Linked DNA regions of Homo sapiens: all the other regions are linked to region 1. Evidence: fine-mapped expression QTL. A gene starts in region 1. Each other region holds a variant in brackets. All regions are shown on one strand. Distances are between the middles of the regions. Region 1 holds the start of SYTL3 (synaptotagmin like 3). Region 2 overlaps TMEM181 (transmembrane protein 181). Region 3 holds the start of MIR3918 (microRNA 3918). Region 4 overlaps SYTL3 (synaptotagmin like 3).

Evidence for each region. PIP is the estimated chance that this variant, and not a neighbour inherited with it, causes the effect. A credible set is the group of variants that fine-mapping cannot tell apart.
Region 2: its variant is the best candidate, but not a certain one, in a credible set for the expression of SYTL3 in whole blood (TOPMed, PIP 0.74).
Region 3: its variant is the best candidate, but not a certain one, in a credible set for the expression of SYTL3 in whole blood (TOPMed, PIP 0.66).
Region 4: its variant is the best candidate, but not a certain one, in a credible set for the expression of SYTL3 in Th2 cells (Schmiedel 2018, PIP 0.70).

Annotation. Positions count from the first base shown.
Region 1 is chr6:158,647,264-158,653,287 of GRCh38, reverse strand. SYTL3 (synaptotagmin like 3) reads right to left here and starts at 3,234. Exons shown (of 18, transcript NM_001242394.2): 1 at 3,210-3,234; 2 at 1,446-1,535.
Region 2 is chr6:158,580,507-158,586,530 of GRCh38, reverse strand. It overlaps TMEM181 (transmembrane protein 181), which reads right to left. Exons shown (of 17, transcript NM_001376852.1): 3 at 5,536-5,591; 4 at 2,487-2,577; 5 at 1,106-1,227. Among named protein-coding and RNA genes, the nearest start is that of TMEM181, 23 kb to the right of the region's middle. The variant G/A (reference allele first, on the strand shown) is at 2,935.
Region 3 is chr6:158,761,271-158,767,294 of GRCh38, reverse strand. It overlaps SYTL3 (synaptotagmin like 3), which reads right to left. Exons shown (of 18, transcript NM_001242394.2): 16 at 5,117-5,219; 17 at 3,786-3,991; 18 at 2,424-2,800. The coding sequence ends at 2,691. It overlaps EZR (ezrin), which reads left to right. Exons shown (of 14, transcript NM_001111077.2): 13 at 1-34; 14 at 217-1,547. The coding sequence ends at 381. MIR3918 (microRNA 3918) reads left to right here and starts at 2,542; the gene lies at 2,542-2,634. RefSeq lists a silencer at 4,144-4,438. The variant A/T (reference allele first, on the strand shown) is at 2,764.
Region 4 is chr6:158,671,267-158,677,290 of GRCh38, reverse strand. The region is part of intron 5 of SYTL3 (synaptotagmin like 3); the gene reads right to left. Among named protein-coding and RNA genes, the nearest start is that of SYTL3, 24 kb to the right of the region's middle. The variant T/ATTATTATTATT (reference allele first, on the strand shown) is at 3,193.

The sequences.
Region 1 (6,024 bases):
TGATCTGCCCACCGTGGCCTCCCAAAGTGCTGGGATTACAGGTGTGAGCCACTGCGACCGGCCTGCTTGCATAGATTCTTTACGGAAGCTGATTACAGCCACAAAGGAAGGTGATGAATAAAGAACAGCTCTCAGCTCAGTTCCCTATTCATAGGCTTAAAAGACTCATTTTTGCAACAATGAGACAGCACGCATGCATATCCATCAGAAAGTCTGACACAGAAATGAAGATGTGCGTTTATACATTTTCTGTCTATCTTGTTACTCATTCAGAGGTGGGTTTTCTGGGAAGCGAATGACACCTCAACTTCAGAATCCTTTATTTGCACGGCCCTGTCCAAGGCCCTAGATGCCCTGTACCTGGTTCCCTCTTTGTTTTCCCAAAGTCTCCACAAGTTGTACAAGTTTCAGGTCCCTCAGATATCTCTACTTCACATTAGAAGACTCGGCTGGGTGCGGTGGCTCACGCCTGTAATCCCAGCACTTTGGGAAGCTGAGGTGGGTGGATCACGAGGTCAGGAGTTTTGAGACCAGCCTGGCCAACATGGTGAAACCCTGTCTTTACTAAAAATACAAAAATTAGCCGGGCATGGTGGTGGGCACCTGTAATCCCAGCTACTCGGGAAGCTGAGACAGAATTGTTTGAACCTGGGAGGTGGAGGTTGCAGTGAGCTGAGATCGCGCCATTGCACTCCAGCCTGGGTGACAGAGCGAGACTCTGTCTCAAAAAAATAAATAAGGCCGGGCGTGGTGGCTCACGCTTGTAATCCCAGCACTTTGGGAGGACGAGGCAGGTGGATCATGAAGTCAGGAGATGGAGACCATCCTGGCCAACATGTTAAAACCCTGTCTCCACTAAAAATACAAAAAAATTAGCCAGGTGTGGCGGCAGGTGCCTATAGTCCCAGCTACTTCGGAGGCTGAGGCAGGAGAATGGTGTTAACCCGGGAGGCAGAGCTTGCAGTGAGCTGAAATTGCAGCCACTGCACTCTAGCCTGGGCAACAGAGTGAGACTCTGTCTCAAAAAATAATAATAATAAAATAAGTAAATAAATAAACAGGCTGGGCTCGGTGGCTCACACCTGTAATCCCAACACTTTGGGAGGCCGAGGTGGGTGGATCACCTGAGGTCAGGAGTTTGAGACCAGCCTAGCCAACCTGGTGAAACCTCATCTATACTAAAAATACAAAAATTATCTGGGCATGGTGGCAGGCACCTGTAATCCTAGCTACCGGGGAGGCTGAGGCAGGAGAATCACTTGAACCTGGGAGGCAGGGGTTGCAGTGAACCGAGATCGTGCCATTGCACTCCAGCCTGGGCAACAGAGTGAGACTCCATCTCAAATAAATAAAAAAAAATAAAAATACATAAAAATAAATAAATAAATAAATAAAACATTAGAAGACTCACACGTGGGCTTGAATCTATAAAACTTGAAGCCTACCTGAGAGAGGACAAAGTTGAACAGGCGCTTTCTCTGAAAGATCACTGCAATTCACCGCTGATTCCGAGTATTCTTTCTCATTCGGGGAGCCTTTTACCACCCAAAAACAACAAAAAATATTACTTTAGAATCAGAAATAGGAATTCATGACTGAAATAGGAAGCCATGGCATTCATACTTTAAACTTGACCTCTTTGTATGGAAGAGCAAAGAAATGAGAATTAATATTATTATTTATTTATTTATTTATTTATTTGAGATGGAGTCTCGCTCTGTCACCAGGCTGGAGTGCAGTGGCGCGATCTCAGCTCACTGCAACCTCCACCTCCCGGGTTCAAGCAATTCCCCTGCCTCAGCCTCCTGAGTAGCTGGGACTACAGGCGCCCGCCACCACACCCAGCTAATTTTTTTGTATTTTTTAGTAGAGTTTCACCATGTTGGCCAGGATGATCTCGATCTCTTGACCTCATGATCCATCCGCCTAGGCCTCCCAAAGTGCTGAGATGACAGGCGTGAGCCATCACACCCGGCCGAGAATTAATATTATTATATCCTTCTAGGTACTACTCACAATTGTTGTTATGCTTTCTGTTGTGCCAACAGCTACTATTTATTTAGCTCTTACTCTGAACCAGATAGTTTAAGTACTTTGCATACATTATCTCTACTAATCCTTATTGCCACATTATGAAGTAAATGTACCCATTCTACAGATGAGGAGAGTGAGTCTTGGAGTGATTAAGTAACTTACCTAAACTCACACTCTAAACTGGGTCTGTTTAACTCCAAAACCTTATGCTTCATTTAGGCAAAGCAGCTAAGTTAGAATCTCCAACTATCTTGGCTAAATAATCTTTTCTACACCAATTCTAATTTCTTTTTTTCTTTTTTTGAGACGGAGTCTTACTCTGTTGCCCAGGCTGGATTGCAGTGGCAGGATCTTGGCTCACTGCCACCTCCGCCTCCCAGGTTCAAGTGATTCTCGTGCCTCAGCCTCCTGGGCAGCTGGGATTACAGGTGCCTGCCACCACACCCAGCTAATTTTTGTATTTTTTTTTTTTTTTTAGAGATGGGGTTTCATCATGTTGGCCAGGCTGGTCTCAAATTCCTGATCTCAAGGGATCTACCCACCTTGGCCTCCCAAAGTACTGGGATTACAGGCGTGAGCCACCGCACCCAGCCCAATTCTAATTTAATAAATCTTTAATATCTAATGTGCACTTTCCTCTCATAGTCTCTTTCTTACCAAGCAATTTAGAGATTAAGGAAGCTTAATTAAAAGAAATTTAAATTAGACCCTAGCTAACTTTTTTATAATTCCAAAATGATATTTATGTTCCACCTCCAAACGAGAAATTACGGATGATCAAAACAATAAAGTCGATTCAGAGAGAGCAAAATAGTAATAAACTGTAAGTATAAGAATTTGCAAACCAAAGAAGAAAGCAAATGACACTCTACCCTTTAAAAAAAAAAATCACACCATATAGCTTTTGGATAGTGTTTTTCTGTTTTGTTTTGGTTTTTAATTAACTCTGAAGTCACTTCCACCATATCACTTAAATCATTATTATCTCAAATGTTAAATGTATGTTATTCAATAAAATTACAAGATATCTTTTATCTAATTTATTATGTTTTGTTTCCTACCTTTTCAATGTCATAAATTTAAGAAAAGTTACAATAACTATAATCTCTACCCACCCCACTCCCCCACTCCTAAAACGACCTGCTGCAACGGCCAGCCATGCCTTCTCATCCTACCTTCGCATCTGCTTCAAGAGAAGAGACCAGAGCCGGCTCTGCAGAGAAGGAAGTCAATTCTTCTTGTTAGAGTAACTGACGTATTTCTCTTCCCTTCCTGTCGGGCACAGGCTGACGCAGTGCACCCTGTGTGGCCAGCCTTACATGCCTCGGTGGCTACTCCCACATCACTAGGGACCCAGGGAGCAAAGCCACCCCAAAACCACATCAAGGAGCTCTTCTATGCCAACATTTTACATTTTTAGCTGGAGGAAAGACCAGGCTGATGCTGGTGAAATGTTTCACCCTTCCTAAGGAAACTCCCTACAGAGACTACAGCCTTCAAATATTCAAATGTTCTCACATTTGTGAAGGGTTTCACATTGACTTCAGTGTAAATGACTAACCACATCTCAAAGAACAGCTATTAACTCAAGAATAATTTACAAGAAAGGGGGACAGCCAGGCCAAGAGCGATGAAGATTGTAATGAAATCACCAAGGGGAACCTTCAAAATGCTGTGCGTGTACTAGGTAGTATTACTCAGCACCGTGAAGTGTCCCTGCCCTGCTAACTCAGGCATGGCCAAGGACTTGCTCTGGAGAGCAATAAGACAATGAAGTGTGTGCAAAGGTGCCACGTGCCACGTAGGCTTGGCACCTACCGAGCCAGTACTGGGGCCACCATTCATTCTCTTTCCCTTCTCTTTCCCTTGATGACTCCAGACACAGGCTGCTCCAGCAACCTCGTCTCAGCATGGAGAAGACATGAAGCAGAGCCATGGAAGATCCTTGATGGTCATGGAGTGTGAGTGGCAAATAAATGTTTGCTGTCATCAACCACTGAGAGTGTAGGGCCATTTGTTTCTGCAGCTAACCTAGCCTATTCTGCTGATGTAGTGTGTAGTGTTTTCACAAACACAGAACTGAGCACCAAACTATTTAATAACTACTATAGCATGAATATTTACCCATTGGAACAAATGCCAGCGGAGGCCCTGCTATACCACGAGTTATCCTTTAGTTATTGGATCTTGGGGATGAGGTCCCAGGGAAGGGGCTGCAGTCACCAGGATTGAGAGGAAGAGGGACCCAAGAAGCTCAGAGCAGCCACTGTTTCATGGGGTACAGAGGTATTTCAGCACAACTGTGCCTCCGCTTCCCAGCTCAATAGCAGATCTAAATATAGGCACTTCTTAGCTAATCTCTTTAGCTTTTCTCAGCACAGGACTCTCACTTTAGATATGTGTCAGCCAGAGTTTCTTTTCCTTTACAACATTAAATTCCTCAGCCATGAGTGTTTCAACAGCACCCTCGTCCTCATCGTCTTCTTCTGTTACTATTATTTTGACTCAGCATGATCTCATAGTAACACACTTCTTGGCACAGGGGAAGAAAGGAAAAAATGGAAAATCCACAGGATGGCATTTGGACTATGAAGGGCTGCAGATTATAGCAGAACAACACTGCTGGATATTATTATTATTATTATTTTTTTTTTTTTTTTTTTGAGACCGAGTCTCGCTCTTTCACCCAGTCGGGACTGCAGTGGCGCGATCTCGGCTCACTGCAAGCTCCGCCTCCCGGGTTCACGCTATTCTCCTGCCTCAGCCTCCCGAGTAGCTGGGACTACAGGCGCCCACCACCGCACCCAGCTAATTTTTTGTATTTTTAGTAGATACAGGGTTTCACCGTGTTAGCCAGGATGGTCTCGATCTCCTGACCTCGTGATCCGCCCGCCTCGGCCTCCCAAAGTGCTGGGATTACAGGCGTGAGCCACCACGCCTGGCCTATTATTTTATTTTTTGAGACGGAGTTTCGCTCTTGTTACCCGGGCTGGAGTGCAATGGCGCTATCTCAGCTCACCGCAATCTCTGCCTCCTGGGTTCAAGCGATTCTCCTGCCTCAGCCTCCCAAGTAGCTGGGATTACAAGCATGCACCACCATGCCTGGCTAATTTTGTATTTTTAGTAGAGATAGGGTTTCTCCATGTTGGTCAGGCTAGTCTCGAACTCCCGACCTCTGGTGATCTGCCCACCTCAGCCTCCCAAAGTACTGGGATTACAGGTGTGAGCCACTGCGCCCAGCCACTGCTGGATATTATTGATGTTATTTATTGATGTGACAGTTCATTGATTGCTATGATTATTAGGCCCACACTTGCTAAATAAAGGTATTGGCAGCTCCAGTCCCACAGTCTGTATTCAAGAAATTTGACTCCAGAAAAGAAAGGTGATTGCACGCAAACCTGCCAACCTATCACTAACCTCCAAATTGAAAAACAAACCTAAGATTCACTCCACTGACTTACTGCATAGAAACTAAACATTATTCTAAAATATGGCAGAATGCCAAAGATTCATGAGCAGTTACGAGTAAAGGTGTCTGAGCTCCAATGCTTCTGATGGACATCCATTCGTGGCAGATGGAAGGTGCTGGAAATGGCATCTGGTGAACTGCCAAATGTCTTAACGATTTTAAATTCCTTAGCCCTACAGACTACATCAGTTGGGCAGAATATAATACCACATCACTGCATTTTTCCAAGCACTACAACATCACATAAGCCTAGAGAATTCAAACCCTCCTATTTACAGATATATCCGTTTAAAAGAAAAAATTCCATAAAGGCCATGTTTTAGTCAACTTTGTAGCCTCAACCCCCAGCTCAGAGCCTGACACAAAGGGAGTGCTCCATATATGTGTATTGAACAAGTGAACAGATAGTTGTGAAGATAAACAGACCAGCTCATCCGTTTACTGGCAGCCTCAAAATGTCATACATCGCGATCATTTAACAAATGTTCTTTAATAGTTAAAATTGGAGAGTGGTACCC
Region 2 (6,024 bases), 67 kb after region 1:
TCTGCGTTACCTTGGGCAATGGTTTAGACCTCTCTAAGCCTCAGTTTCTTCTTCTACAAAATAGGCTCTAACAGTAGTTTCTACTTCATGGACTTGCCATGAGGACTGAATGAGACAATGAGTGGACGGTACTTGGCATGACACCCAGCAGAGAAACTACTTGCCATCTGGCTTCTGACATTACTTTCCTAATCCTATAAGAAAATGCACTGCCCTGTTTTGATGCTCTCCAAGTTCTCCACGCTGCCAGTAACCTGTTGTGCCTGAGGTGGACTCCTCGCTCTAGCAGGGATCTGGTTCTGATTCTTTGGACTCTGAACAGAATACAGTGCCAATGAAATCAAGCGTGAGGGCTCATTCCCCACTGTGGACCCAGGTTTCCTATCCCTTAGCCACACTGTGCTCTGAAGTAGATGCTCAAAAAGGTAGGCCCCTGACGCCCAAGAGGCCCAGGTACTTGGCTTCACACAGACGGATTAGGGCATGCATCACTCGGCTGGGAACAACCCAAAGCCTCAGTCAAGAGTGACCATGGAAAATTAGTCAGCCCTGGTAGCATACGCTTGCAGTCCCAGTTACTTGGGAAGTTAAGGCAGGAGAATTGCTTGAGCCCAGGAGTTTGAGGCTGCAGTGAGCTGTGATTGTGCCACTGCACTCCAGCCTGGTTGACAGAGCAAAAACCTGTCTCTAAACAAAATAAAACAAAAAAACCCAGTGACCACAGCCTGTGGCAGACGTTCGTATGAGGAGGCAGCCCATAACATTCATTAGGGACACACTGGGCAGAAGGTCACACACACAGTAAAAACAAGTACCGTGTATGCTCAGGGTGGCTAGCAGTATATGTGTGTGCATGCATATGTGCGTACACGTGTGTTTACGGATGTGTGAATGCATGTGTACGTTTATAAGAATTTTTAAGGGTATCCAACTGTAAAAATAAGTAAGTTTTTTCATGCCATCTTTGGTATGACTCCATTTTTTTCACTTAAGAACAATTTCTCGAAGCCTCTTACCATGCTATCTTTTAGACTGGAAAGTGGCTCTGTAATTAAACGTGTACACAGCCTGAGGACTGACTGTGGGGCTCACCCCACACACTCACCCCTGCACATGTGAGGGTCCTTGTCCGGTTGTGAACTTTGTTATGAATGTACATCGTGGTTCCATCTTGAGCTACACCATCGACTTTAACAGTCATGGGAAAGCTTGTCTTAATAGAAGTTTCTACAAAAGAAAAAAATTCAGTGTTAGAGACCATGCCAGGCACATCACACCTACAAAGGTGCCTTCCTGGCTCTGTAATGACCTTGGAGCCAGGAAAACGCTTAAGGTCCTTAGGCCACATTGGCCTCAGCACATTTGAAAATCTCTTAATTGCCCAGCAAAGTAAAAGCCTTTCCATTAGATTCCAACCCAGCACCCAGGGGGTCTATGTCAAAACCTGCACTTCAGACCCATCAGTTTCACTTCACACACAAAAAAAGGGTAAATATTTCATGGCTAATGAACTTATATTTTTAATTTCTCACATACATTTTTAACTTACCAAATTCTATACCAAAAATAGAAATAGATTTCTTATTTCTTCTGATTATAGGTTTTTCTCATTATATTCTCATTTTAAAAAAATCATAAAATATAAAGATAGCATTAAATACTGAGAATTTCACCTAGAGATAATCGTAATTCATATTTCATGTCTATCCTTCCAGACCATTTTCTAGACAAATACGTAGTAATATGAATTTTTTGCTTTCTAAAATGTTACAAAGAGGGGATAATTTTTTCGTAATATATATTTGTTTCACTTCATTTACTGTGGTCATGGGGTTATCTTTTCAAATTCTTTCTCAACCAGAGTGTCTCATGTGAGGCACAGAACAGAAAAGGATTTGGTTATCTTCTCAATTCTCCCTAGGATGATACAAAACTAGTGCCACTGTAGACTGACAGAAGCTAATTCATCATAAACAATGGATGCATTAGGGGAGGGTTTCTCAGCCTCTGCATCACTGACATTTTGGGCCAGATAATTCCTTGTTGTGAAAGTGGGGGAGGTGTCGGCACCTCTGCCCTCTACCCACTAGATGCCTGGAGCACTCCCTCCTCCTCTCCGTGTGTGACGAAATTGTCTCAAGACATTGGCAAGTGTCCCTGGGGGCCAGAACCATTATTTTAGGGCATCAGGTCTTAATTCTCTCCCAGATCCTCACTGAAAAAGGCTGGCAGCTGTAGCGCCGACACCATGCAGCCACTGAGCGGAGCTAACCAGGACTCCACGGAGGACGTCTATCTATCGCAACTTTCTCTCCCACTGGAAGACATTTAAGGGGTTTCCAATTTGTTGCTATGATAAATAATAATGGACATCCTTATACATCTATCTTTGAGCACTTGCTTGTCTGAATATTCTGAAGTCAACATCTAAAATACGATGTTTCTTCGTATAATGAAAAATCATTCCAAAATGTCAAGCTCCATACCTTTTGATTGATCCAACTCAACAACACATGTCAGCCATAGTTGCTGATTGTATGTAGACAGTGGATTTGAAAGTATTTGAATTGGCTTTAGCTGAAGAAAAAAAAACAAAGTAATCCATGTGACCTTTTCATTGAGTCTACCAAATACCTCATCGTTTTAACACACAAAGTTTACTTTTAGCAATAAAGGCTTCAGTGTTAGCTTTGAAACAGAAATATGTGAGGTTTTCCTTCTTTTTTTTATTTTGATGGAGTCTCACTCTGTCGCCTAGGCTAGAGTGCAGTGGCGCGATCTCGGCTCACTACAAGCTCTGCCTCCTGGGTTCACGCCATTCTCCTGCCTCAGCCTCCCGAGTAGCTGGGACTACAGGCGCCCGCCACCACGTCCAGCTAATTTTTTGTATTTCTAGTACAGACGGAGTTTCACCGTGTTAGCCAGGATGGTCTC[G/A]ATCTCCTGACCTGGTGATCCGCCCACCTCGGCCTCCTAAAGCGCTAGGTTACAGGCATTAGCCACTGCGCCCGGCCATGAGGTTTTCCTTTCAAGAACATAAGTGACATTTTGCCTTTCAGAAGAAGAAACGACTAACTTCCAGCAGCAATTCACGTCTGTCTCTCACAGAAATCTCTAAGCAGACATTTTTCACACTGGGACCCTTGGGGACAATACACTTACTTAAATATCAAGAAAAAAACCATCTTGGAAAAAGAATAAAATGAGCAGAATGATGAGATACATACTAAGACAATAAAGAATACCAAAGGAATGCTTTCATATTTACAAGATAATATATCTCAAGAATTATTATTTTTTGAGACGGGAGTCTAGCTCTGTCACCCAGGCTGGAGAGCAGGGGCGTGATCTCGGCTCACTGCAACCTCTGCCTCCCAGGTTCAAGTGATTCTCCTGCCTCAGCCTCCCAAATAGCTGGGATTACAGGCACCTGCCACCACACCCAGCTAATTTTTCTATTTCTAGTAGAGATGGAGTTTCACCGTGTTGGCCAGACTGGTCTTGAAGTCCTGATCTCATGATCAGCCCACCTCGGCCTCCCAAAGTGCTGGGATTACAAGCATGAGCCACTGCGCCCGGCCAAGAATTATTTCTGAAGTATCCATATGCCAGGCAAATTGCTCTTTGACGTCTGCTATTTTTAGCCTTCTGAAAGAAAATCTTAACACCCCTGGGGAGAAAAATTAGAGGTGATGATGTTGCCAGTGATTCTTCTGCAGTATCTTTTGAAAGACGTAATACTGGTGTTTAATAGCAGCAGGCCACAGAGAGAGTTACTGAAGCAGCCCACCCATGGTTCCAAAGAAAAGCATTATCTGAATGCATCGTCTTTGGAGGTGAATGGGTTTTTTCTTTTTTTTTCTTTTTTAAGACAGGGTCGTGCTCTGTCACCCAGGGCTGGAGTGTAGTGGTGCAATCATGGCTTACCGCAGCATCAACCTCTCAGGATCAAGAGATCCTCCCACCTCAGCCTCCCAAGTAGCTGGGACTACAGGTATGCCCCACCACACCCAGCTTATTTTTAAATTTGTTGTAGAGACACAGTCTCCCTATGCTGCCCAGGCTAGTCTCAAGTGAATGTGTTTTTGTGTCTTAATACTTCTGTCAGGGTCTCAATAAAACTCCCTAGGACTAAAGATTTGCCTAAAAACCATCAAGGCAGGAAATCTCTCCAGGAATGAGCTACTGTCTTAGTGAAGTGAGGATGGTCTCTTGGAAGCAAGTCAGTTCAGTGGAATGGCTGCTGTGTTCAGTGTCAAAGAGAGACTCACACCCTGAGAGACAGAAACTGTAAAAGATGAACTACTATCAGGAAAGCCCACGGCGGCACCTCCTCAAATCAGATCATCACGCCAACAGTGAAAGAAAATAAAGCAATGCAAAGGAAATGTGAAAACAGGCTATGCAGAGGGCCCTTTCAAACTAGCAGTAGCAAAGAGAAAAATCAAATGGTGTAAGTTTTAGTACTTTTTCTTCTTTTGACTTTTTGCAAAATTATAAGGGTAGAAAACTAGCAGGGAAGTGTGAGAACAGAGAGAAGGGGGATTTGGGGTCATACAATCAGATTTAAACTATATATATCATGGTGCCTCGAAGATACAGGGCAACTGTGTTCAGTTTATAGGTAAAGTTATGTTTCACACACAAAAAAAGGTTTAGTTGTCTGGGCTCTCACAGGTTAGTATTTATTCAAGGAAACCAAAATTCTCCAATTGAAAGAAGCTCTGTTTTTCTCTAAAGGTGGTAAAAAAGTTAAGGCTTTTTTTTTTTTTTTTTTTTTGAGACAGAGTCTCACTCTGTCACCCAGGCTGGATGCATTGGCACGATCTTGGCTGACGGCAAGCTCCCCCGCCCGGGTTCACACCATTCTCCTGCTTCAGCCTCCCGAGTAGCTGGGACTACAGGCGCCCCCCCACCACGCCCAGCTAATTTTTTTGTATTTTCAGTAGAGATGGGGTTTCACCATGTTAGCCAGGATGGTCTCAATCTCTTGACCTCGTGATCAGCTCACCTCAGCTTCCCAAAGTGCTGGGATTACAGGCATGAGCCACCTCACCTGGCCAAGTTAAGGTGTATTTTTTAAAGGATTTTTCATTTAAATTGAGTTCACACAAGGAATACAAAGTAATCATTAGAAAGAAATGTACCATTAGAAATCTGACAGAGGCCAATTCTTAACCTGGGCAAATATAAGATGAGACACCTAAGTGGTATCATTATTAAAAATTACAATCTGATAGGACTTACAGAGGCAAGGAATCAGGATGAGTTAGCCACTCTTTGGAAATGAACAACTGCTCCCTAAGAGGTAACACCACCATCTTCCTAAGTACTGAGGTGTTTATTACAGCAGAAATGGTGACTTTAGCAAACAAGAACCCAGATGCCAGCAGCTGACAATGGAAGAAGAAATGTGTTGCCTGAGAAGCCGCAAGGCAAGGGAAGGCTACCTTAAAGACTCTAAGCGGAACCATTTCTCAGTGACCTGAGGTTTATAATGCACCCCACCACCCAGCTGCCACTCAGACCCAGTCTTACCTTTTTGCTATTATTTAGTGAAAAATTAGCCGCAGAAGTCTGGATCACTTTAGGTCCTAAAGTGTAACAGAAAAGGACAAAAGCAGATTATAGCAATATTGATAATTTAGTATTTTTTTCCAAATTCCAAGAAAGACTCACACATTACACGGAGATGACCTTAATTCACCTGGTTTTTCTTTAGAGATTATACAATGTGTAAGTAGAAGATATAAACACACAAACACAGACACAGAATATCCACTCTGCTGTGCTTCACGACTTCCCAACACAAGTCAACCAGCATGACTGGCATACAACACAGAGGGTTTCCACAGGAAACACCCTGCTAGGCTCTCAATGAGAGCACTCTCTACATGCATGGGCCCAAGAAGGCATTAACTATAGAGACTCTGTCTTATATATTCTGTAAAATATAAAGATTTCTTCCAAAACCTAAGACACACTTATCTGCTCATCCAATTAATCCCGTCTTCCAAAAATACTTAT
Region 3 (6,024 bases), 110 kb before region 1:
AGAGAAGAACGAGCGTGTGCAGCGGCAGCTGCTGGTGAGGCCCAAGGGGCTCTGTCTCCAGGGAGCCTGCCTCGCTTTTGGAGCAGACAGGCTTGGGGAGGGCAGTGATGTGAGCCAGCCCCACCCAGCACCCCTCTTGCCCTTCCTGTTTTCCTAGGGGACGGGCCGGGCCATATGGGGAGGAAGGGACTAGACCAATGCTGCTTAATGTTACAGACGCTGAGCAGCGAGCTGTCCCAGGCCCGAGATGAGAATAAGAGGACCCACAATGACATCATCCACAACGAGAACATGAGGCAAGGCCGGGACAAGTACAAGACGCTGCGGCAGATCCGGCAGGGCAACACCAAGCAGCGCATCGACGAGTTCGAGGCCCTGTAACAGCCAGGCCAGGACCAAGGGCAGAGGGGTGCTCATAGCGGGCGCTGCCAGCCCCGCCACGCTTGTGTCTTTAGTGCTCCAAGTCTAGGAACTCCCTCAGATCCCAGTTCCTTTAGAAAGCAGTTACCCAACAGAAACATTCTGGGCTGGGAACCAGGGAGGCGCCCTGGTTTGTTTTCCCCAGTTGTAATAGTGCCAAGCAGGCCTGATTCTCGCGATTATTCTCGAATCACCTCCTGTGTTGTGCTGGGAGCAGGACTGATTGAATTACGGAAAATGCCTGTAAAGTCTGAGTAAGAAACTTCATGCTGGCCTGTGTGATACAAGAGTCAGCATCATTAAAGGAAACGTGGCAGGACTTCCATCTGTGCCATACTTGTTCTGTATTCGAAATGAGCTCAAATTGATTTTTTAATTTCTATGAAGGATCCATCTTTGTATATTTACATGCTTAGAGGGGTGAAAATTATTTTGGAAATTGAGTCTGAAGCACTCTCGCACACACAGTGATTCCCTCCTCCCGTCACTCCACGCAGCTGGCAGAGAGCACAGTGATCACCAGCGTGAGTGGTGGAGGAGGACACTTGGATTTTTTTTTTTGTTTTTTTTTTTTTTGCTTAACAGTTTTAGAATACATTGTACTTATACACCTTATTAATGATCAGCTATATACTATTTATATACAAGTGATAATACAGATTTGTAACATTAGTTTTAAAAAGGGAAAGTTTTGTTCTGTATATTTTGTTACCTTTTACAGAATAAAAGAATTACATATGAAAAACCCTCTAAACCATGGCACTTGATGTGATGTGGCAGGAGGGCAGTGGTGGAGCTGGACCTGCCTGCTGCAGTCACGTGTAAACAGGATTATTATTAGTGTTTTATGCATGTAATGGACTATGCACACTTTTAATTTTGTCAGATTCACACATGCCACTATGAGCTTTCAGACTCCAGCTGTGAAGAGACTCTGTTTGCTTGTGTTTGTTTGTTTGCAGTCTCTCTCTGCCATGGCCTTGGCAGGCTGCTGGAAGGCAGCTTGTGGAGGCCGTTGGTTCCGCCCACTCATTCCTTCTCGTGCACTGCTTTCTCCTTCACAGCTAAGATGCCATGTGCAGGTGGATTCCATGCCGCAGACATGAAATAAAAGCTTTGCAAAGGCACGAAGCAGCACGGGTGTGTGCTTGTGTGTGGGGTGGGAGGGCTACCGCCGACTCGTCTGGGCTCTATGCTGTCCTCTGGCCAGGTTTCGTGAGGGGCCGTGGTGTCCCTGGGGGTACACTGGTAAGTTGGAGCTGACCAACCCAAGACATGGTGCTCCATGGGTCACCTAACCTCCTCGAGATGGTTTCCACAGGAGAGAAAGACTGCTCCAACACTCATCAGGCTCCTCTAAAATGCTCCTCATAGCCGGGCACAGTGGCTCACACCTGTAATCCCAGCACTTTGGGAGGCCGAGGTGGTCGGATCACGAGGTCAGGAGATCGAGACCATCCTGGCCAACATGGTGAAACCCCATCTTTACTAAAAATACGAAAATTAGCCTGGTGTGGTGGTGCATACCTATAATCCCAGCTACTTGGGAGGCTGGGGCAGGAGAATTGCTAGAACCCGGGAGGCGGAGCTTGCAGCAAGCCAAGATCGTGCCACTGCACTCCAGCCTGGTGACGGGGAGACTCCGTCTCAAAAAATAAAGTGCTTCTCACAGCGAAGCTGTGACTCCCCCCCCCGCCTTGAGACAGGGTCTTACTTTGGCCCAGGCTGGAGCACAGTTGCATGATCGGGGCTTACTGCAGCCTCAACCTCCTGGGCTCAATCCTCCCGGTTCAGCCTCCTGAGTAACTGGGACTACAGGTGTGTACCACCACACCTGGATAATTTTTTGGTTTTTTTGTAGACAGGGTATCTATGTTGCCTGGGCTGATCTCACACTTCTGAGCTCAAGCCATCCACTGCAGCCTCCCAAAGTTGCTGGGATTACAGGGGGGAGTTACCATGCCCACCAGCCGGCCTTTTACCTCATTTGATAAGCACTGGAGGACATGGGTAACAACGTTTATTAAAATCTGGCCATTTTCTACATCTCAAAGAGGAGATAACCCACCAGAGGCTTAGGTAACATAATTGTGTTTAACGTAAATATACACAGATACCAATAGGCGGTTAAGCCATGGGACAGGGCCGCAGATGGAGACTGCTCAAGGTCAAAGGGGTCTCCAGCTGGGACCCTGCACCTGGTTCGTAGCCCCTCTGCAGACGCACAGTGCCTCACGCCTGCTGCAACCTGGAACCTTGAGGCCTTCATGTCAGTGCAGGACAAGAGTCATGTCTGTCCATAGATTGGGGCTGGAAAGGACTTTCTGCCACTGGAGCTTCGAT[A/T]GTGAGCATGCATCCCCGCCAACAGCTGTGTCTCCCTCTGTAAGAGAGGAAGACAATTTAGCCATGGTCGGGGAGGGCACCACTTCATCCCCTCTCATCCCTTTAAAAATGATGACCAGCCAGAAGTTTTTCACCTCAAGTCCACATTAAAAGGCCAACCACTGATGACAGACGCCGCCACCACCACTCCCACCCCAACAAAGCTGGTGTTGAGACTGGGATTCACGCAGGCATCCTCTGCTCTGCGAGGCTCTAACAGCCTGGAGTTCTGTAGTTTGAAAGTGAGGCGAGGACTCTGGTTTGGTGGGCTGGGTCTTCACCAAGGGAGTGGATAGTTGCACACCAGCATGGCTAGCTGGGTGGGGCCGTCTCAGACTGGGGGCTGGGCTTGCCCATGGGAAGGGATTCTTAGAGGAAGACAGTATGCTTTGGACAAAATATCTTTGAAAAGCAATGGAGCAGTGAAGCTTATTTCTCTTCAGTCACTGGTTCTCAGTTGGAGGTCCTTGGAGATGTGTGCAGGTGTTTTTGGTTGTCATCATGTCAGGGACACTGCTGGCAGCCAGAAGCAGTGCCAGGCACAGAACCTCACAGCAGAGGGCTGTCCACCTACCATGCCGGCGGTGCCCTGCCGAGCGGCTCTGGACAGCACTGCTGTTCTGACCACTTTTGATGAAGTACTTTCTGAATTGCCATTTGTTTAAGAAGATATTTTCATTTAAGAAAATAATCCTTTTATGATTGACGCCAGAAACAAAAGCAAATACTGTACCTAGCCCGTTTGGAGGCCTATAATTTTTGTTTCTTTAGCAGATCTAAATCTGATTTAAATTGTCAAAATACTTGGCTGTATTATGGCTCAGCTGTAGAGTAAAAACTAGACTTAGGCATTTCCAATTAAGGCAGGCTAGGCAATTTCAAAACCAGTTAAGTCACTGCCCTGGTGGAAGCATTTTCTTTGCACGGTACCCATTAGGATAATCACAAAGTATAAACGTTTGGGCTCAATGTCTCAGACTTACTTGAACCAAGTCTGGTTCCTCCAAGCAAGCGGTCGTTCATTCCAAAGAGGGCCTGATCCCAGACAGTTAACTCCAAGCTTGACTGCCTCAGCTGAGCTGGGGTTACGCCACTGAAGACAAATGAGTGTTTCCACTGGGGGCAAGCCTGCTTCCTCAGGACTGGCGACTTCAGTCTCAGTTTTTGTTGGTCTGGCAGAGTGAGACAGCTGAAGAGGGAACACAAACCCTGCAATCATTGCCATCCACACGGCCTTCTCTCCTGAGGCCTGTGCGTCAGTGCAGACGGGAAGCACTAAGAAAAGTGCCAAGTCCACAACATCCACACCCTCCCCAGTGAAGCAGGGTGGGAACCACAGGACTCGGCACATTTCCCTTAGGGCCGAATTCTGCATCAGGTATGAAGGGCGAGCTGCATGCTGAGGCCTCGTGGCCCTCATCTTAATCTTTCCTCCTTGGGGTGCCTCCCACCATGACTGCAGATACACGTTATCTCCTTTTAACCCTGTTCTCAGGAAAATCAACTCAGACAAGCTTGTCCAAGGCCATGCAGATAAGCAACAAGATTAGAACATAAGCTCAGTTCTCCTTTTTTTGAGACGGAGTTTTGTTCTGTCGCCCAGGCTGGAGTGAAGTGGCACCATCTCAGCTCACTGCAACCTCCTCCCCCCAAGTTCAAGGAAGACTCCTATCTCAGCCTCCAGAGCAGCTAGGATTATAGGTGCCCGCCACCACACCCAGCTAATTTTTGTATTTTTAGTAGAGATGGGGTTTCATCATGTTGGCCAGGCTAGTTTTGAACTCCTGACCTCAGGTGATCCACCTGCCTCAGCCTCCCAAAGTGCTGGGATTACAGGCACGAGCCACTGCGTCCAGCCTGAGTTCTATCTTGACCGTCATTTTTCCCTATGTCACTGACGGGGAGTTTGCAATTCAATGTAATAATGGTATTTGCCTTACTTTTAGAGGGGCCAATGCACCTATACTGAATGAGAATGAAATGTGGACAGTCATGCGTTTTACTGTTGGTCCAAGAGGAGATGTTAAGCTTAGGAAATATTTACTGACCACACCACATTTTCATGCTTGATTTCAAAACTGGCTTCCTGATATCACAGAACTGAGAAGATTAGGGTTTCGAGTACTCCAGCATGTACACATCCCGTGAATTTTTGGAAATCAGGGTCTTTAATATGTGTTGTTAGATTTTCATAGGAAAGCTAAAATAAGACGTTTTAAGTGGCTTACGTTTTTTAGTGTTCGCTGCAGGTTCTGGGCCATGTTGTGATGTATACTAGATCACCAATAAATATTTGATTACATCGAATACCTACCCCTTAACAAATGAGTTCAAGGTGCCATCTGGCCGCACAGGTAAATTCTTGGCTCCTAGCACTACCAAACAAAGTTGACCATGAAGTGATGGCTGATCTGTCCCTGGAAGGAAAGCCAGTATTCACTGTCAAACCATGTCTCCTGATACGTTAGTATGCAGTACCACCACCCCAAAACCGAGAGCTCAGCTAGAGAATCTGCTACAGCCCTCAGACCCCGAGAGAGCAGATGGGAGTGGTGCAGTGGGCTCTGCTGGCCCTGCCCACAGGCTGTGGCGCTGCCCACACCGTGCCGCTCTGTGGTCAGGTGGAGGACAGGATGGAGGGATTACTAAGATCCTAGAAAAGAGTAAAGAGGAACGCAAGGAGAGGGAAGATGCCGAAGTTTGAGTCTAGTTGTAGCCAGAAGTTTGGGGGAAAGTGAGAGCCCCGAGACCCTGTCTAGGAGGTTGGGATGGCCATGGGGCACTTGCTGCTGGTCTGCTGGTGACCCCGTGAACTTGGGTAGCAGAATTTCCTCTTCTAGCCAAATAGGGAGTCAGCAAAATACACAACAGAAATGTGCATTCTGGGCCGGGCGTGGTGGCTCACGCCTGTAATCCCAGCACTTTGGGAGGCCAAGGTGGGCGGATCATGAGGTCAGGAGATCGAGACCATCCTGGCTAACATGGTGAAACCCTGTCTCTACTTAAAGAAAAAAAACAAAAAATTAGCCGGGCATGGTGGCAGGTGCCTGTAGTCCCAGGTACTCGGGAGGCTGAGGCAGGAGAATGGCATGAATCAGGGAGGCGAAGCTTGCAGTGAGCCAAGATCGGGCCACTGCACTCCAGCCTGGGTGACAGAGCAAAACTCTGTCTCAAAAAAAAAAAAAAAAAAAGAAATGTGCATTCTCCCAGTCCTCCTTCCCC
Region 4 (6,024 bases), 24 kb before region 1:
CTGAGAATGATGGTTTCCAGCTTCATCCATGTCCCTACAAAGGACATGAACTCATCCTTTTTTATGGCTGCATAGTATTCCATGGTGTATATGTGCCACATTTTCTTAATCCAGTCTATCATTGTTGGACATTTGGGTTGGTTCCAAGTCTTTGCTATTGTGAGTAGGGCCATGATAAACATATGTGTGCATGTGTCTTTATAGCAGCATGATTTATAGTCCTTTGGGTATATATCCAGTAATGGGATTGCTGGGTCAAATGGTATTTCTAGTTCTAGATCCTTGAGGAATCGCCACACTGTCTTCCACAATGGTTGAACTAGTTTACAGTCCCACCAACAGTGTAAAAGTGTTCCTATTTCTCCACATCCTCTCCAGCACCTGTTGTTTCCTGACTTTTTAATGATCACCATTCTAACTGGTGTGAGATGGTATCTCATTGTGGTTTTGATTTGCATTTCTCTGATGGCCAGTGATGATGAGCATTTTTTCATGTGTTTTTTGGCCGCATAAATGTCTTCTTTTGAGAAGTGTCTGTTCATATCCTTCGCCCACTTGTTGATAGGGTTGTTTGTTTTTTTCTTGTAAATTTGTTTGAGTTCATTGTAGATTCTGGATATTAGCCCTTTGTCAGATGAGTAGGTTGCAAAAATTTTCTCTCATTCTGTAGGTTGCCTGTTCACTCTGATGGTGGTTTCTTTTGCTGTGCAGAAGCTCTTTAGTTTAATTAGATCCCATTTGTCAATTTTGGCTTTTGTTGCCATTGCTTTTGGTGTTTTAGACATGAAGTCCTTGCCCATGCCTATGTCCTGAATGGTATTGCCTAGGTTTTCTTCTAGGGTTTTTATGGTTTTAGGTCTAACATTTAAGTCTTTAATCCATGTTGAATTAATTTTTGTATAAGGTGTAAGGAAGGGATCCAGTTTCAGCTTTCTACATATGGCTAGCCAGTTTTCCCAGCACCATTTATTAAATAGGGAATCCTTTCCCCATTGCTTGTTTTTGTCAGGTTTGTCAAAGATCAGATAGTTGTAGATATGCAACATTATTTCTGAGGGCTCTGTTCTGTTCCATTGGTCTATATCTCTGTTTTGGTAACAGTACCATGTTGTTTTGGTTACTGTAGCCTTGTAGTATAGTTTGAAGTCAGGTAGTGTGATGCCTCCAGCTTTGTTCTTTTGGCTTAGGATTGACTTGGCAATGCAGGCTCTTTTTTGGTTCCATATGAACTTGAAAGTAGTTTTTTCCAATTCTGTGAAGAAAGTCATTGGTAGCTTGATGGGGATATAAATTACCTTGGGCAGTATGGCCATTTTCACAATATTGATTCTTCCTATCCATGAGATGGAGTCTCGCTCTGTCGCCCAGGCTGGGGTGCAGTGGTGCCATCTTGGCTCATTGCAAGCTCCGCCTCCCGGGTTCACGCCATTCTCCTGCCTCAGCCTCCTGAGCAGCTGGGACTACAGGTGCCCACCACCGCGCCCGGCTAATTTATTTTTGTATTTTTAGTAGAGACAGGGTTTCACCATGTTAGCCAGGATGGTCTCGATCTCCTGACCTCATGATCCGCCCATCTTGGCCTCCCAAAGTGCTAGGATTACAGGCGTGAGCCACTGCGCCCGGCCATTTTTGTGTTTTTAGTAGAGATGGGATTGCATCATGTCAGCCAGGCTGGTCTCGAACTCCCAACCTCAGGTGATCCACCCACCTCGGCCTCCCAAAGTGCTGGGATTATAAGCGTGAGCCACTGTGACCGGCCCTACTTCAACTAGTCTCGCATCTAAAATGGTTCATAGTTACAAAGCAAAATACTCGTTTTTTTCCACTAGCTCAATTGATCTGATTTCCACATCCTTACAGGAAAAAAAAGACTGATCATTGTGATTGAATCCTAGGTAACTATCAAAGGAGTCAGAGAATCAAGATGAAGATAAAGAAAGGGTTTTTATCAAGCTGTTACCAACACTTCTTACAAAACACGAATAACTCTCCCTTGCTTAACCTCAGAGAGAAGGCAGGTGCCCCCCTCTCTGTCACATCCAGTGCTATATTCACAGCTACAAGCTCTGGCCAGGCACATTACAGCCCCAGTGAATGAATGAATATCCTCCCCTCCGCAGGGGGGCATCCTTAGAATTAAAGAGATAAGGTGGGATCCAAAATAGGTGTAGCCTTGTAGCAGTGTGCACTGAAATTGAGTAAGTCTAACATTTAAGTCTTTAATCCATGTTGAATTAATTTTTGTATAAGGTGTAAGGAAGGGATCCAGTTTCAGCTTTCTACATATGTACATAGAGTAGGTGTCACACCCTCTAACTGTGTCGGGCAGGGCCACACACTGAGGGCCCAAGCAGAAACTGTAAATGAGGGAAGGGGGCTGGGAGGGGAGACAACAGGGAGGGGTGGGAACTTGCTTAACCAGAGGATACACACCCATTTTGAAGCACTAAAATGATCAATATTAAACACTGCGCAGGTCAGAACAAACAAGGTCTGTGCCCTGTCTGTCGTCTGTTGATGTCAAGTTTGTGACTCCTGGTCTGTTATATCAGATAACCAGTCAATGAAATTAGGAAAAATTCTACTGCAGCTGGACAGAGCCGTACTTGTTTAAGGCCTTGGCAATAAAAACGGTTAGATGCTGTGCCCCGACCTGTCCTCTCCCTGTAGACCTAAGAAGGGGGATCCACCACGACAGAGGGGCGATGAGAAGGCCGAAAGCAGGAGCACACGCTCTCTGTGGGCAACCGCTCAACCTGGCTTTCTAAAGAGACAACCAAGAGCTTCCGATAAAATGCCATAGTCAGGGTACATGGAGTCCAGAAGACCAGGCCAGCAGCCTCTGTGACCGTGCATCACCGTGGAACCAGAGGGAACTTTCAGAAAGCAGTCAGCCTCCAAAAACATTTAAGACCCACCTCTGAGAAAAAGACACAGCAAGATAGAAGGAAGAGCCAGGATGAAGAGACGGTGGGACTACAATAAGGGAATATTTCATAAACTAACAGAGCCAAAGCAGAATGAACTGTTTCATCAGCAGAAAAGAGCAGAAATGGCAGGCTAGAAAGTTGAATCTGTGAGGCTGACTTGGCAGAGACACTTGCCAGAATGTGAAAGAGAAAGAAAAAGACATTAAATGTTGAGGGAGAAGATTATCATCATCATCATCATTATTATTATTATTATTATTAT[T/ATTATTATTATT]ATTATTATTATTTTGAGACACAGTCTCACTATGTTGCCCAGGGTGGACTGCGGTGGTGCGATCTCGGCTCATTGCAACCTCCAACTCTCAGGTTCCAGCGATTCTCCTGCCTCAGCCTCCGGAGTAGCTGGGATTACAGGCATGTGCCACCACATCCAACTAATTTTTGTATTTTTAGTAGAGACAGGGTTTCACCATGTTGGCCAAGCTGGACTTGAATTCCTGACCTCAAGTGATCCGCCCAGCTCGGCCTCCCAAAGTGCTGGGATAACAGGTGTGAGCCACCACGCCCGGCCCGAGGAAGAAGATTATTAATACAAAGAGAAAAGGAAGCCAACTTATGCCTTCAAAGCTGTTCCTGGCGGGGCGTGGTGGCTCACACCTTTAATCCCAGCACTTTGGGAGGCTGAGGCAGTGGATCACGAGGTCAGAAGATTGGGACCATCCTGGCTAACATGGTGAAACCCCGTCTCTACTAAAAATACAAAAAATTAGGGGGGCATGGTGGCCAGCGCCTGTAGTCCCAGCTACTCGGGAGCCTGAGACAGGAGAATGGCGTGAACCTGGGAGGTGGAGCTGGCAGTGAGCCGAGATCGCCCCACTGCACTCTAGCCTGGGCAACAGAGCAAGACTCCGTCTCAAAAAAAAAAAAAAAAATGCTATTCCCAAAGAAGCTGTGTAAGTGGCATGAAAGCATCTTGAGAACAATCAGACTTGACTGAGGAAAGCATGACTGAGTTAAACCGAAATAAAAACCCAGGAGACCCAAGAGGGAGCAGCTCAAAAGAACGGCCCTTAATCCACAAAAACATCATTCCCAGACACATATTAGAAACTGTTTTTAATAAAAAGGATACAGAAAAAAAAAATAACTGGGCATGGTGGCTCACACCTGCAATCCTAGCACTTCGAGAGGCCAAGGCAGGAGGGTCACTTGAAGCTAGGAGTTCAAGACCAGCCTGGATAACATAGTAAGACCTTGTCTTAAAACATATCTATATCAGCCAGATGTGGTGGTGCGTACTTGGAGTCCCAGCTATTTGGGAGGCTGAGGCAGGAAGGTCTCTTGAACCCAGGCGTTGGAGGCTGCAGTGAGCTATGATCACACCCTGTACTCTAGCCTGGGTGACGGAGTGACACCCTGTCTCTAAAAAAACTAACTAGGTGAGGTGAGGTGGCTCACGCCTGAAATTCCAGCAGTTTGAGAGGCCGAGACGGGCAGATCACTTGAGGCCAGGAGTTTGAGACCAGCCTGACCAACAAGGTGAAACCCCTATCTCTACAAAAAAATACAAAAAATTAGCTGGGTGTGGTAACACACACCTGTAATCTCAGCTACTAGGGAAACTGAGGCAGGAGACTCACTTGAACCCAGGAGGCGGAGGTTGCAGTGAGCTGATATCGTGCCACTGCACTCCAGCCTGGGCGACAGAGTGAGACTCAGTCTCAAAAAAAAAATTAAATTAAAAAAATTAAAAACCAACTAAATAAAAAGTTTTAAAAGAGAATAAGGCTGCAGTCTCTGCCAAAAAAAAAAAAAAGAAACAAAAAAACCAGTATGTTTCTTCTACATAAAAATCAGGAGATAAACAATGAAATAAAAATAAAACTAGCATCAGCTGTCTCCATAATGTTAAATTCCAAAAGGCAACATGGCTGCATTTACTGAGTAAACAGTGGCAACCCAGGACTTAAAACCCAGTGAAATCATTCCTCATGAAGGAAGACCACGGAAAGCAACTCTCAAATACGCAATGACGTGGAAAATACACCACTCACAGTCCTCTCCTGGGGAAAAACTTTTTTTTTGAGACAGTCTTGCTCTGTCGCCCAGGCTGGAGTGCAGTAGTGCAATCTCGGCTCACTGCAACCTCCGCCTCCCGGGTTCAAGCAATTCTCCTGCCTCAACCTCCCAAGTAGCTGGGATTACAGGTACACACGACCATGCCCACCTAATTTTTTGTATTTTAGTAGAGACAGGGTTTCACTGTGTTGCCCAGGCTGGTCATGAACTCCTGAGCTTAGGCAATCTGCCCACCTCGGCCTCCCAAAGTGCTGGGATTACAGGTGTGAGGAAAAACTTCTTAAGGAGGCAATTCAAGTGATTGAAAAATGAATCAAAATAAAGAACTTGCAAACTGGGAAATCATGGTCTCCAAAGACTAGCAATGAGCACTTGAATCAGTTATAAAATGCAAAGTTGGTTTAAAATATTGTTGTAAATATAATCAGAAAACACTGAAGGTAACAAAAATAATTATGGAAAGAGATGCTGTATAACATATAGATAATAATTATAAAAATATAGAGGTTTCAAAATGATTGGCTAAATAATTTAAATAATTATCTTTTTTTTTTTTTTTAGACTGAGTCTCGCTGTCAGCTCACTGCAACCTCCGCCTCCCAGGTTCCAGAGATTCTCCTGCCTCAGCCTCCTCCAGAGTAGCTGGGATTACAGGGGTGCGCCATCATGCCCGGCTAATTTTTGTATTTTCAGTAGAGATGGGATTTCACCATGTTGGCCAGGCTGGTCTTCAACTCCTGACCTCAAGTGATCTACCCGCCTCAGCCTCCCAAAGTGATGGGATTACAGGCATGAGCCACCGATAAAATTATCTATAAACCATTCTTGGTGTGAACCCTGGATGCTAAACTGTCTTGGCTACCATGCAAAATGCCAACCCAGAAAAACTCTCTTGGGGCTCCCCTCCCTTACAGGGTGACAGGTTTCAGCTGAACTACGTAAGGTGACAACAGAGAATATTAACAAAAGACAATGCGCAGAAAGCTCACCGGTTCTCAAAAAGGTTTTAAAGGCAGGACTTTCCCTA